2 separate regions of the Homo sapiens genome follow, and region 2 is linked to region 1. Evidence: fine-mapped expression QTL. A gene starts in region 1. The other region holds a variant in brackets. All regions are shown on one strand. Distances are between the middles of the regions.

Region 1 (5,380 bases):
TTTGCGGAGTTGTTTGCTGCGGAGTTGTCATCTCGTCTAGTGCTTCGTGCAGGAATCCATTTCTGAGCGTTTTGCCCTGGGGTTTTCCCCAGGAACTCGCTGATTAATAAAAATCAGCAAAAACACTTATTGTCACACACCAAATGTTAAACATCATAAATTCTCTTACATAGAAAAAAGTAATTTAGGCTTTCTCGACTTCCCCTCCAAGAAAGCCAACTCTGGAAATTAGTGCTTCTGGAACAGTAGTGTGCATCAGAATCACCTGAAGGGCTTGTTAATACAGATTGCTGGGCCCACCCAGTTTCTGCTTTCACTGGTTTGGGGTGGGGCCTAAGAATTTGCATGTCTAGTAAATATTCCCAGTATCAACGCTGTGGAACCACATTTTGAAAATTAACATTTTTTTTAAGAGATGGGGTCTTGCTGTCTTGCCCAGGCTGATCTCAAACTCTTGGGTTCAAGCGACCCTCCCACCTTTGCCTCCCAAAGTTGTTGTTGGGATTACAGGTGTGAGCCACTGTACCGGCTGCCAATAAACACTTTCTAATGTTTTATTGACCATGTTGAGTGCGTACTACTTTACTAATAACAATCAGTAGGAATAATAGCTACTGATTTCAGAAAAACACATTAGTAAAAATAACCCAAAGAATAAGGAAAAAAATAACAGCTTGAGAGTCTCAACTCACTTAGAAAATTTGGCTAAGGAATAATCAGGAACTGATATTCTGTATTTAGGATACCCAACAGAAACCACGCCCCTTAAGATTAGGAGTCTTGATGGCTATTGCCTTAATTATACCGTCACATGGGAAAGACTTTTAATCTGTTAAATAAAGCTCACTGTTTTTTTACATGTTTACCACACCTGTTGCCAGCAGTCTTGGGATAGTGCTGAGGTGCACCCCTACTTCCTCCTCCGCCCGAAGAAGCACTATTTAAAAGAAAAAAATTGTTTACTGTATCCCAACTATGTCTCACTCAAAAAGAATAAGCATCTATTTTGTGTTTTGCTTTGCTTGTAGAGATGGGGGTCTCGCTATTTTGCCCAGACTGGAGCCAGGCCTGTATTTTAGTGCTTGTATATTATGCTACAAATGAAGACTGAACTCGGACCCAAAGGAAAGGCAAATAATTGATTTTATTTATTCTTCAGATGGCAGTTCTTAGAAGGCTGTCAATGAAAACTTAAGAACTTTTCAAATGAAAATTGCAGCCCATTAAGTCGGACTTATTTGCTGTGTTAACTACTTTTTGAGACTGGCCTTTTCAAAAGGATTCCCCAAAATAAATCTACAAGTACCTGAAACGAGAAGCACCCCCTTCTGCAATCGCACTCTCCACTTTGGCGGCTTGACAACGAAGAATCTTCAAAAGAATAATATTAATAGATGGGGTGGGGAGGGGAGGGGACAGGAGAAATGAAATACCTGGAACGAGAAAGAGCACCAAAATTAGACACTGCTAACATACAGATCTATAAGCCTTCATTCAATTACAACGTATTTCAGATCCTGGCACTGTCACTGCATTGCAGATCTGTAAGACTAACCTAAAATGTACTCAAAACACTGACAATTACATTTTGTTTAGCCACCTGGAAATTCCCCGGTGTTCAAGGATGCAAAGAGACTTCGTAGAACACAAGAGCATTTTAAACGGCTCAGAACGAATCTTTTGAAAAAGCCACATTCTACTATCTTTAAAACTGAGCACTGAGATCAATAGAAAAGTCTAACTACAGACACGAGCAACATCACGTGGAAAATGTCTGCCCTAGGAATTTTTACTGCCTTGACGAGGCCAGCGACTAGATGAGGTCTCTCCGAAAGCTCTTCAGCAGTTTTCCCCTGTCCACCCTTTCGCCTCCTCCCCGTGGAGAGCTCGTGGAAAGACGCGCGAGAGGGGGCCGGGTGTACAGGACTAGCACTTGCAGGCGGAAGACCAGGGCCACAACATGGCAGCAGGAACCTCCGCCCCGTTTTTCCCTTCCTGGGAACAAAAGAGCGGAGCATTCCTCCCACCCAGGCGCAAGTTAGGGAAGTGCTTCCGACAACCTCCCCGCGAGGCCCGGGTCGCTCGACGGGGAGGAGCAGCTGAGGCCACCCCCGCCAGCCCGGCGCCCAGCTCTTTGTTCTCCAAGCAGGAAGGCGGCCTCCTGCCCACCCGCCGCCTCCAAGCGGGCCCCCTCCTGCACCATAAATCCCCCCGGGACTGACAACCGCCTCGCCACGGCCTCCTCTGCTGACAAAAGGGGCAGAAATCATCACTCTCTCTTTCCTCCCCGACGAAGGGCAGCCCCTGCCGACTCCAGGTCCTACACACCTCCCCGCCGGGAGGCCAGGCTCCGGGACGCCTGCGGTTCCCTGGTCCCGCGCCAACGGCCTGGCCTTCCCTGCCGGCCCGCGTGCCTCCCGCCACGGCGCTAGCGGTCCGAGCCACGCTCCCTCGCCGTCCGAGCACAGCCGTGCCTCGGTCCGCCACGGCCTCGTCCCTGCAGGCGTCGGCCATCCGGCCATGACCGCACGGCGGCCTGGCCAACACTGACGTTTTCCTTCTACTCCGTCAGCAACAGGAAGAGAGAACAAAAGCCAAGACTTTCCAGGTATCTGAAGCGCAGAGGAAATGCTAAAAAAGGGTCGCCCCACCCGGCTCCGCCTGCGGCCGCCATTTTGTACCACTCGAGAAGAAGCGACCAGGGACGGCGGCCATTTTAGAGCGCTCCACTCGGCGGCGGCAGCGGCTCAACTCACCTTCACCGAGAACTCAGCAGCTGCCACCGCAGCTGCCTCCTCAGGATCCGGTCGTCGGGGATAGGGAAGGGAGGGGAAAGGGGAACGGAAAACAAAAAAAAGGGGGAGGGAAGGGGGAGGAAGGAGTCGGGGACGGCCTCAAACTCAGCTCAGAGGAGTCGCTGCTGCAGCCGCCACTCGGTACCCGCTGCCACCTCCATAGAGCTCCGACTCACTGCTGGCGCTAAGGCGTGTCTGAAGCCGAACTTATCACTCTTGGGGCAGCCGAACCCACCAGAGTCTCCCCGAATGGCTCCTTCGCCGCCCAATCAGCGGCCCGGTTGCCGTCTGCCACCAATCCGCGCAGGGCAGCGAGGAGGAGCCACAGGGCTGAGCTCGGTTGCGGCGCAGCCCCGCCGCAGTGCGCAAAGCCATATTCGCGAAGTCTCTGAGGCTGAGCCAGTGGCGTAAGGGGCGCCGAGCGCTGTCGAGATGAGGGTTGCGTGCGTAAAGCCGGAGAGCCCTTTTGAGTCTGCGTTGGCGTGGCTGCTGCTTCTTGCTCCAGTCCCTTTGTTCACTGAGTCCATATGCCATGCTCCAGTTGTATCATCCCCTTTTCCCTCGACCTCGTTTTCTCACCGGGAATATGGGAAGAAAACGCACCCTTACCTCCCCCGAACCCTGTGCGTGGCGAGTGAGCATTGCTTTTCTTGGCGCCCCTTGGAGCTGTGGCTGCCCTCGCGTGCCTGGCCTCTCCCGGGGCTGAGCCCTTCGGGTTGAGGCCTGGAGCCCCCGGGCGCAGCGCCGGGACACTACCCGGCTCCAGGTCCTCGGCTTCGGCAGCCTTAGGGAACCCAGAAAGTAGTGGGGAGGAGGCGAGACGTGCGCCCGGATGCCAAAGGGGAGCTTCATTCAGCTCCTTATTGGCCCACCCCCTGCAGAGTGAATGAGAAAGTGATGAAAGGAAGGGGTTGATTTTCTTCGAACCGCACAGAAGAAGCTGCTTTTCCCATAGGAATGTCCGGCTGGCGGTCACCGAGGAAAACACCCTGTGTGTCAGACTTCCGCGGGTGTTTGGAGGATTTCGAATTGCTAGCTCCTGTTTTTTTTTGTTTTTTGTTTGTTTAAGTGCACGTTAAACATTGTCAGTTGTGTATTTTCATTTTATTTAAGGTTCACCATAAGAAATAGGATTAAGCTTTTCAAAGCCGGCAAGTTGAACTATTTATACTTACCAGGTAATGTATTGATGAGTACCTTATTCCATCGTTTGCGACATTGTAGCTATACTAAAATGGAGTCATACTTCCATAAACTTAAACAACAAAAATGTCCCCATCTCCATTTTAACATGTAGTACTTTTACAGTGTATAGTCAAAGGCAAGAATGTGTGTGTTTTAACATGAATGACTTTTAAAGTGTTCAGTAAGAGGCAGGATTTTCAAAGACCCAAACTTAACCTTTGATGTGTCAAAACAGCTCTTGGTATTAGAGCACCTGGTCCTTAATACAATTTTCCGGAAAATTGCAGTTTTTCCTACGACATTTAAATGTAATAGAAGGCTGTGGTGTGGCTCTGAAGGTTTTTAACACAATTCCAACATCTGTAGATCTTTGCTATAGAATAGTCACCATTCCCTACTTTACTGTTACTACACTTATTGCTATTACATCAATTTTACTTGAACTTTAAAACTTGGAAGAGATATTCTAAAAAAAAAAAAAAACTATTTTGGGGTGGTGGTGGTGGTGCAAGTTTTGTTTTAAATACAAGAGGTTTCACTTTGTATTTCTTTGGACCCTTCTAGCTTCATGATAACACGAGAATAATGTTTCTTTATAATTTCTGTAGGGCTTTAAGGTTTGGAAAAATGCATTAGTATATGTGATATTTTTACATAACTGGTTTACATTCCATTTATCTGATAATGAACGAATACATTAGTTTACTAAGAAGAGTAGTATTCAAAAACTATTGTCTAGACTTCAAAGAGAATATTCACCTAGCCGTAAAAGTCGGATGTTCTTATAATTAAGACACTTAAAATTCAGTAATTAAAAATTTAAAAAAGGTTTTACTTAATATTTTATTTAATCTTTGCTAATTGGGAACCCTTTTGGTATGGGCTTTGCAGATATGAGTTTATGTGAGAAATTGACCTGGAAGGGAATAACCTAAGGTAGAAAAAGTAAAAATATTGATAAAACAATCTTTCAATTACCTTTCTCTCACTTAAATAGAAAGATTTGAAGTTGAAATCGTACCTGCAAAGCCCATTGCAGAAGGGTTCACAATTAGCAAAGATTAAATAAAAACATTAAGTAAAACCTTTAGAAAAAAAAATTTTTTTTTGAGACAGAGTCTCACTTTGTCACTCAGGCTGGAGTGTAGTGGTGTGATCTCTGCACACTGCAGCCTCCACCTCCTGGGTTCAAGCAGTTCTCGTGCCTCAGCCTCCTGAGTAGCTGGGATTACAAGCATGTGCCACCACGCCCAGCTAATTTTTGTATTTCTACTTGAGATGGGGTTTCACCATGTTGCCCAGACTGGTCTCAAACTCCTGACCTCAAGTGATCCACCCGTCTGGGCCTCCCAAAATACTGGGATTACAGGTGTGAGCCACTGTGCCCAGTGTAAAAAATT
Region 2 (5,380 bases), 29 kb after region 1:
TGATCCTTCAGTAACCAGTCTCCAAGAAGGCCCCAGTGATCTCCACTTTCTAGTATTAAATGACCTTATGTAGCCTCCTCCCATACTCATTAGGGTTGACCTGTGTAACCTATAGAATATTGCAGACATGATGGTGTGTGACTTCTGAGGCTATAGATATCATAATAGGTATTGTCATTTCTGCCTTACATCTGGAGAAAGCCAGATGCCATATTGTAAAGACACTACAGAGAAGTTCAAATGGCATGGAACTGAGGCCTGCTACAAAGACCCAGCACAAACTTGCCAAGTATGTGAGTGAACCATATTGAAAGCAGATCCGCCAGCCCCAGTCAAGCCCCAAATGACATCTTGACACCAACGTTATGAGATAACCTGAGCCAGAATCACCCCCCTAAGCCAATTCTAGATTCCTGACCTAAAGAAACTGTGTGAGATAATGCTTGTTATTTTCAGTTGCTAAATTTTGGGTAATGTGTCACACAATACAGATAATAAAGGTCTCATCTTGCACAGGGATGGCAATTTTCCTCTTCTCTATCCTATCTCCTATAACTAACTCCAGATTCATATATTGAGTCAGATCCTCACATGCTGTAAGGCAGAGGTCCCCAGCCTGTTAGGATCAGGCTGCACAGCAGGAGGTGAGGGGCAGGTGAGTGAGTGAAGCTTCATCTGTATTTATAGCCATTCCCCATTGCTTGCATGACCGCCTGAACTCTGCCTTCTGTCAGAACAGCAGCAGCATTAGATTCTCATAGGAGCACAAACCCTATTGTGGACTGCACATGTGAGGGATCTAGGTTGCATGCTCCTTATGAGAATCTAATGCCTGATGATCTTCACTGTCTCCCATTACTCCCAGATGAGACCATCTAGTTGCAAGAAAACAAGCTCAGGGCTTCCACTGATTCTACATTATGGTGAGTTGCATAATTATTTCATTACATATTACAATGTAATAATAATATAAAGTGTACAAAAAATGTAATGAGCTTGAATCATCCTACCCCTACCCCTCCCCACCAATCCCCCATACTGGTCCATGGAAAAACTGTCTTCCATGAAACCAGTCCCTGGAAAATGTTGGGGACCGCTGCTCTAAAGGACCAACAATAAAGTAAGTTTGGGAAGAGAAAGATTACATGTCAGAAGAATGGTAAGATTTTGCTAAACTGCATTGGCAAAAAGCTGGAGAATATATGTAGAAATAGACTCTTGAAGATGCAAGATCAAGGAAAAAGGAACATAATTTTGGATTGGGCTGAATGTATTGATATGAGAACATTTGTCTAAGATTCTGGTACTAGTTCAGGTAGCTTTGAGTGTTCTAGTTATGCTCGGTTGATTAATTAAAAACTAGACTCAACTGGTGACTGAAACCAAATAGGATTGGGTTGGCAATAATTTTTTTTTTTTTTTTCTTGAGACAGTCTCACTTTGTCACCCAGGCTGGCGTGCAGGGGCTGGTCTCAGCTTACTGCAACCTCTGCCTCTTGGGTTTGAGTGATTCTCCTGCCTCGCCTCCCAAGCAGCTGGGATTATAGGCATGCACCACTAAACTCAGCTAATTTCTGTATTTTTAGTAGAGATGGGGTTTCTCCATGTTGGCCAGACTGGTCTCAAACTCCCAACCTCAGGTGATCTGCCCACCTCGACCTCCCAAAATGCTGGGATTACAGGCATGAGCCACTGCGCCTGGCATGCCCCAAAATTTTGCTTAACTTTTATTTTAGATCCAGGGGTACATGTGAGGTTTGTTATATAGGTACATTCATGTCACGGGTTTGTTGTGCAGATTATTTTGTCACCCAGGTACTAAGCCAATAGTTATTTTTTCTGCTCATCTCCCTCCTCCCACCTTCCATCCTCAAGTAGGCCCCAGTGTCTGTTGTTCCTCTGTGTGTCCATGTGTTCTCATCATTTAGCTCTCACCTGTAAGTGGGAACGTGCAGTATTTGGTTTTCTGTTCCTGCATGAGTTTACTAAGAATAATGGCCACCAGCTCCATCTACGTTCCTGCAAAAGACATGATCTCGTTCTTTTTCATGGCCACATAGTATTCCATGGTGTATATGTACCACATTTTCTTTATCCAGTCTGTCACTGATGGGCATTTAGGTTGATTCCGTGTCTTTGCTATTGTGAACAGTGTTGCAGTGAACATTTGTGTGTATGTATCTTTATGGTAGAATGATTTATATTCTTCTGGGTATCTACCCAGTAATGGGATTGCTGGGTTGAATAAATGTCTTGATATAATGCTGAAGATAAGCTCCAAAGGCTTAGGAAGAAAGAAGAAAGCAAACTCAAAGTGGGTTTTTTGTTTTTTACGACAGAGCCTTGCTCTGTTGCTCAGGCCGAAGTGCAGTGGCACAATCATAGCTCACTGCAACCTTGAACTCTTAGGCTCAAGCAATCCTCCTGCCTAGGCCTCCCCAAAGCTCTTGGATTACAGGTGTGAGCCACTGTGCCCAGCCTGAAATGGGTTGTTATTTGCATTGGATCATCAACCCCCGTGTCCCCCAAAGGACCTAGAGCACATTATCTTCACACCATAGCATAAATAAATAGACTGGTGAGTATAGTGCAAGTGCCCCTGAACATTACTATAATGGCTGTCCTCTGGGGATAAAGGTTGCATATGTTGGCACTGAAATGGCCTTCCCCCCTCCCCCTTTCTTGTTCTTTTTTCTTTTCTTTGAAATGGGCTTTCCACTTTCAGTGATGGTGAGGGATCCTGAGGTGGTAGAGGCCAGACAGGAGAACATAACTGCCATAGTAACATTATGCACAATTACCAAGAGTGGTAATTGAAAGGTTTGACCTACAGAGATCTTTGACGGTTGCTAATTGATCATAGTTTTTAATACTGAAACAGATGTGTAGCTCACTAAGGACTTAAAGATTTGTGCAAATGAACAAACTCTAGATTAGGAAAACACAGGCCTGACTACAGACACCACTAAAAGTCAGAGCCCACATCTATTTCTA[T/C]TCCTGGGAAGTTCAGAGACTCAGAATACAGAGTATACTATGTACCTTTGAGAAAGAACTGTGTGATTACATCAAAAGTATCTTTCTCTCAGCCTTCAATCAAAAGGACATATAGCTATTTGCTAGGGTAAAATTGTGCACAGGAGGAAATATCTTGACCTTTAAGGGATTATCAGACACAAGTGTTAATCCTTGGTGACCCAGAATACTATGCTCACAGACTCACTGGTCTTACTGTACATTCCATCATCCAGAAGCAGCTGGTCTTCAGAACTCTTGAACAGCTTTTTGAAGACTCAGTTCCAGCTGTTCCATTTTGTGACTCAGGTACTAAGCCAACAGTTATTTTTTCTGCTCATCTCCCTCCTTCCACCTTCCATCCTCAAGTAGGCACCAGTGTCTGTTGTTCCTCTCTGTGTGTCCATGTGTTCTCAACATTTAGCTCTCACCTGTAAGTGGGAACATGCAGTATCTGGTTTTGTTCCTGCATGAGTTTACTAAGAATAATGGCCACCAGCTCCATCCACGTTCCTGCAAAAGACATGATCTCGTTCTTTTTTATGGCCATTTAGTATTCCATGGTGTATATGTACCACATTTTCTTTACCCAGTCTGTCATTGATGGGCATTTAAGTTGATTCCATGTCTTTGCTATTGTGAACAGTGCTGCAATGAACATTTGTGTGTATGTGTCTTTTGTTTCCCAGCAGGGAAGGAATGCTTTGCAAAGTTAGGATGTCGCCCTATAGCAGAGATTAGCAAATTATAGTCTGAGGGCAAATATGCCCTAAATCCTATTTTTGGACAGATTTTAAGAATTTTTTTTTTACACTTTTTAAGGGTTGTAACAGTAACAACAAAAAAGAATACATGACAGATATCAATCATGTGTGGTCTTTAAAGCTTGGAATATTTATTATCTGGTCCTTTACAGAAAAAAGCATGCCAACTCCTGTGCTACAGCAATGTGCTGTGAACCAGCAACCAACATAAAGCGCGGTTTTTCCCTTATCTATATCTGCTGGGAAACCCAGGCTTGAGATAAACACTTCCCACTACGATACCCACTGATGCACTCAAAATGTTTTGCTTTCTATTTTCACAACTTTGAGCTTTGCCTATGTAGAACTCTTTATCTAAGGGAGACATGCTCTAACCCAGAAAATCCAAGAATGGTTCCTCTTAACTGGAAGTTTATTAACCAGCTGCAGATGCTGGCAGTATGAAGATGGAATAGATAATGAAGGAAGGATATTCTAGTTTACGAGACCAGTTGTAGAAATAAAGATGTAGTAGCTACCCATCTACTTTATTCTATTTTGTATGTATCTATATAGGTTAATCATTCCCATTGACTTGTTTTCTCTCCTCATTTATATAAGGTGTATTTGTAATTTAGCTAATGGTATTGTACTTATGTTTATTAATTTTGATAATTATGCTATAATTATATAATACGTTGATATTAGGGGAAGCTATGTGAAGGTATTGGTACTATTTTTGCAACTTTTCTGTAAGTGTAACTTTATTTATTTATTTTTGAGATGGAGTTTTGCTCTGTCTCCCAGGCTGGAGTGCAATGGTGTGATCTCGGCTCACTGCAACCTCTGCCTCCCGGGTTCAAGTGATTCTCCTGCCTCAGCCTCTTGAGTAGCCCGCCACCACACCTGGCTAATTTTTGTATTTTTAGTAGAGATGGGGTTTTGCCATGTTGGCCAGATTGGTCTCAAACTCCTGACCTCAGGTGATCTGCCCGCCTCAGCCTCCCAAAGTGCTAAGATTACAGGCATGAGTCACCACACCCAGCCAGTCTAACTTTATTTCAAAATAAAAAGTTTACGCTGGGCATGGTAGCTCACACCTATAATCCTGGCACTTTGGGAGGCCAAGGTGGGAGGGCTGCTTGAAGCCAGGAGTTCAAGACTGACCAGTCTTGAACACAGTGAGACCCCATCATAGTGAGACCCCATCTCTATTAAATATATATATATATATATATATATAAAGTTTAAAAATGAGCACAATTATGCAAACATAAATATATGATTTAGAAACACATGAAGTGATGAAATTTTTGATGCAATGTGGAATAAAAAATAAGATGCACTAAAATAATGTTTGCTCCTTTTTTAGATGCAAATGACATTAAATAAATCTTATAAATTACACTAAAGTAATGCCAGGAATTTTTCTTTATAACATTTTAAAAATACATATATATTTAAAAATAGAGACAGGGTCTCACTGTGTTGCCCAAGCTAGTCTTAAACTCCTGGGCTCAAGCGATCCTGCTGCCTCAGCTTCCCAAAGTGCTGGGATTACAGGTGTAAACCGCTGCACCCAGACATGGACTTTTCTTCTATCACTTCTTTAATATTTCCTCCGT

Which allele goes with the higher level. Positions count from the first base shown, and alleles are read on the strand shown. Sizes are in standard deviations (SD) of each study's normalised expression.
With allele T in place of C in region 2, the expression in cerebellum of the gene that starts at base 2,978 in region 1 is lower (small effect, 0.29 SD a copy in GTEx).

Evidence for each region. PIP is the estimated chance that this variant, and not a neighbour inherited with it, causes the effect.
Region 2: its variant is the best candidate, but not a certain one, in a credible set for the expression of EIF4G2 in cerebellum (GTEx, PIP 0.51).

What each region holds. Positions count from the first base shown.
Region 1 is chr11:10,805,949-10,811,328 of GRCh38, forward strand. It overlaps EIF4G2 (eukaryotic translation initiation factor 4 gamma 2), which reads right to left and starts at 2,978. Exons shown (of 22, transcript NM_001418.4): 1 at 2,757-2,978; 2 at 1,307-1,433; 3 at 872-937; 4 at 1-99. The coding sequence starts at 1,347. LOC101928053 (a long non-coding RNA gene) reads left to right here and starts at 3,349. Exons shown (of 3, transcript NR_120540.1): 1 at 3,349-3,418; 2 at 3,909-3,973. RefSeq lists enhancers at 1,751-1,830, 2,561-2,820, 3,331-3,380, 3,456-4,062 and a silencer at 3,101-3,150.
Region 2 is chr11:10,835,049-10,840,428 of GRCh38, forward strand. No RefSeq gene overlaps it. Among named protein-coding and RNA genes, the nearest start is that of ZBED5, 20 kb to the right of the region's middle. RefSeq lists a silencer at 3,954-4,248. The variant T/C (reference allele first, on the strand shown) is at 2,995.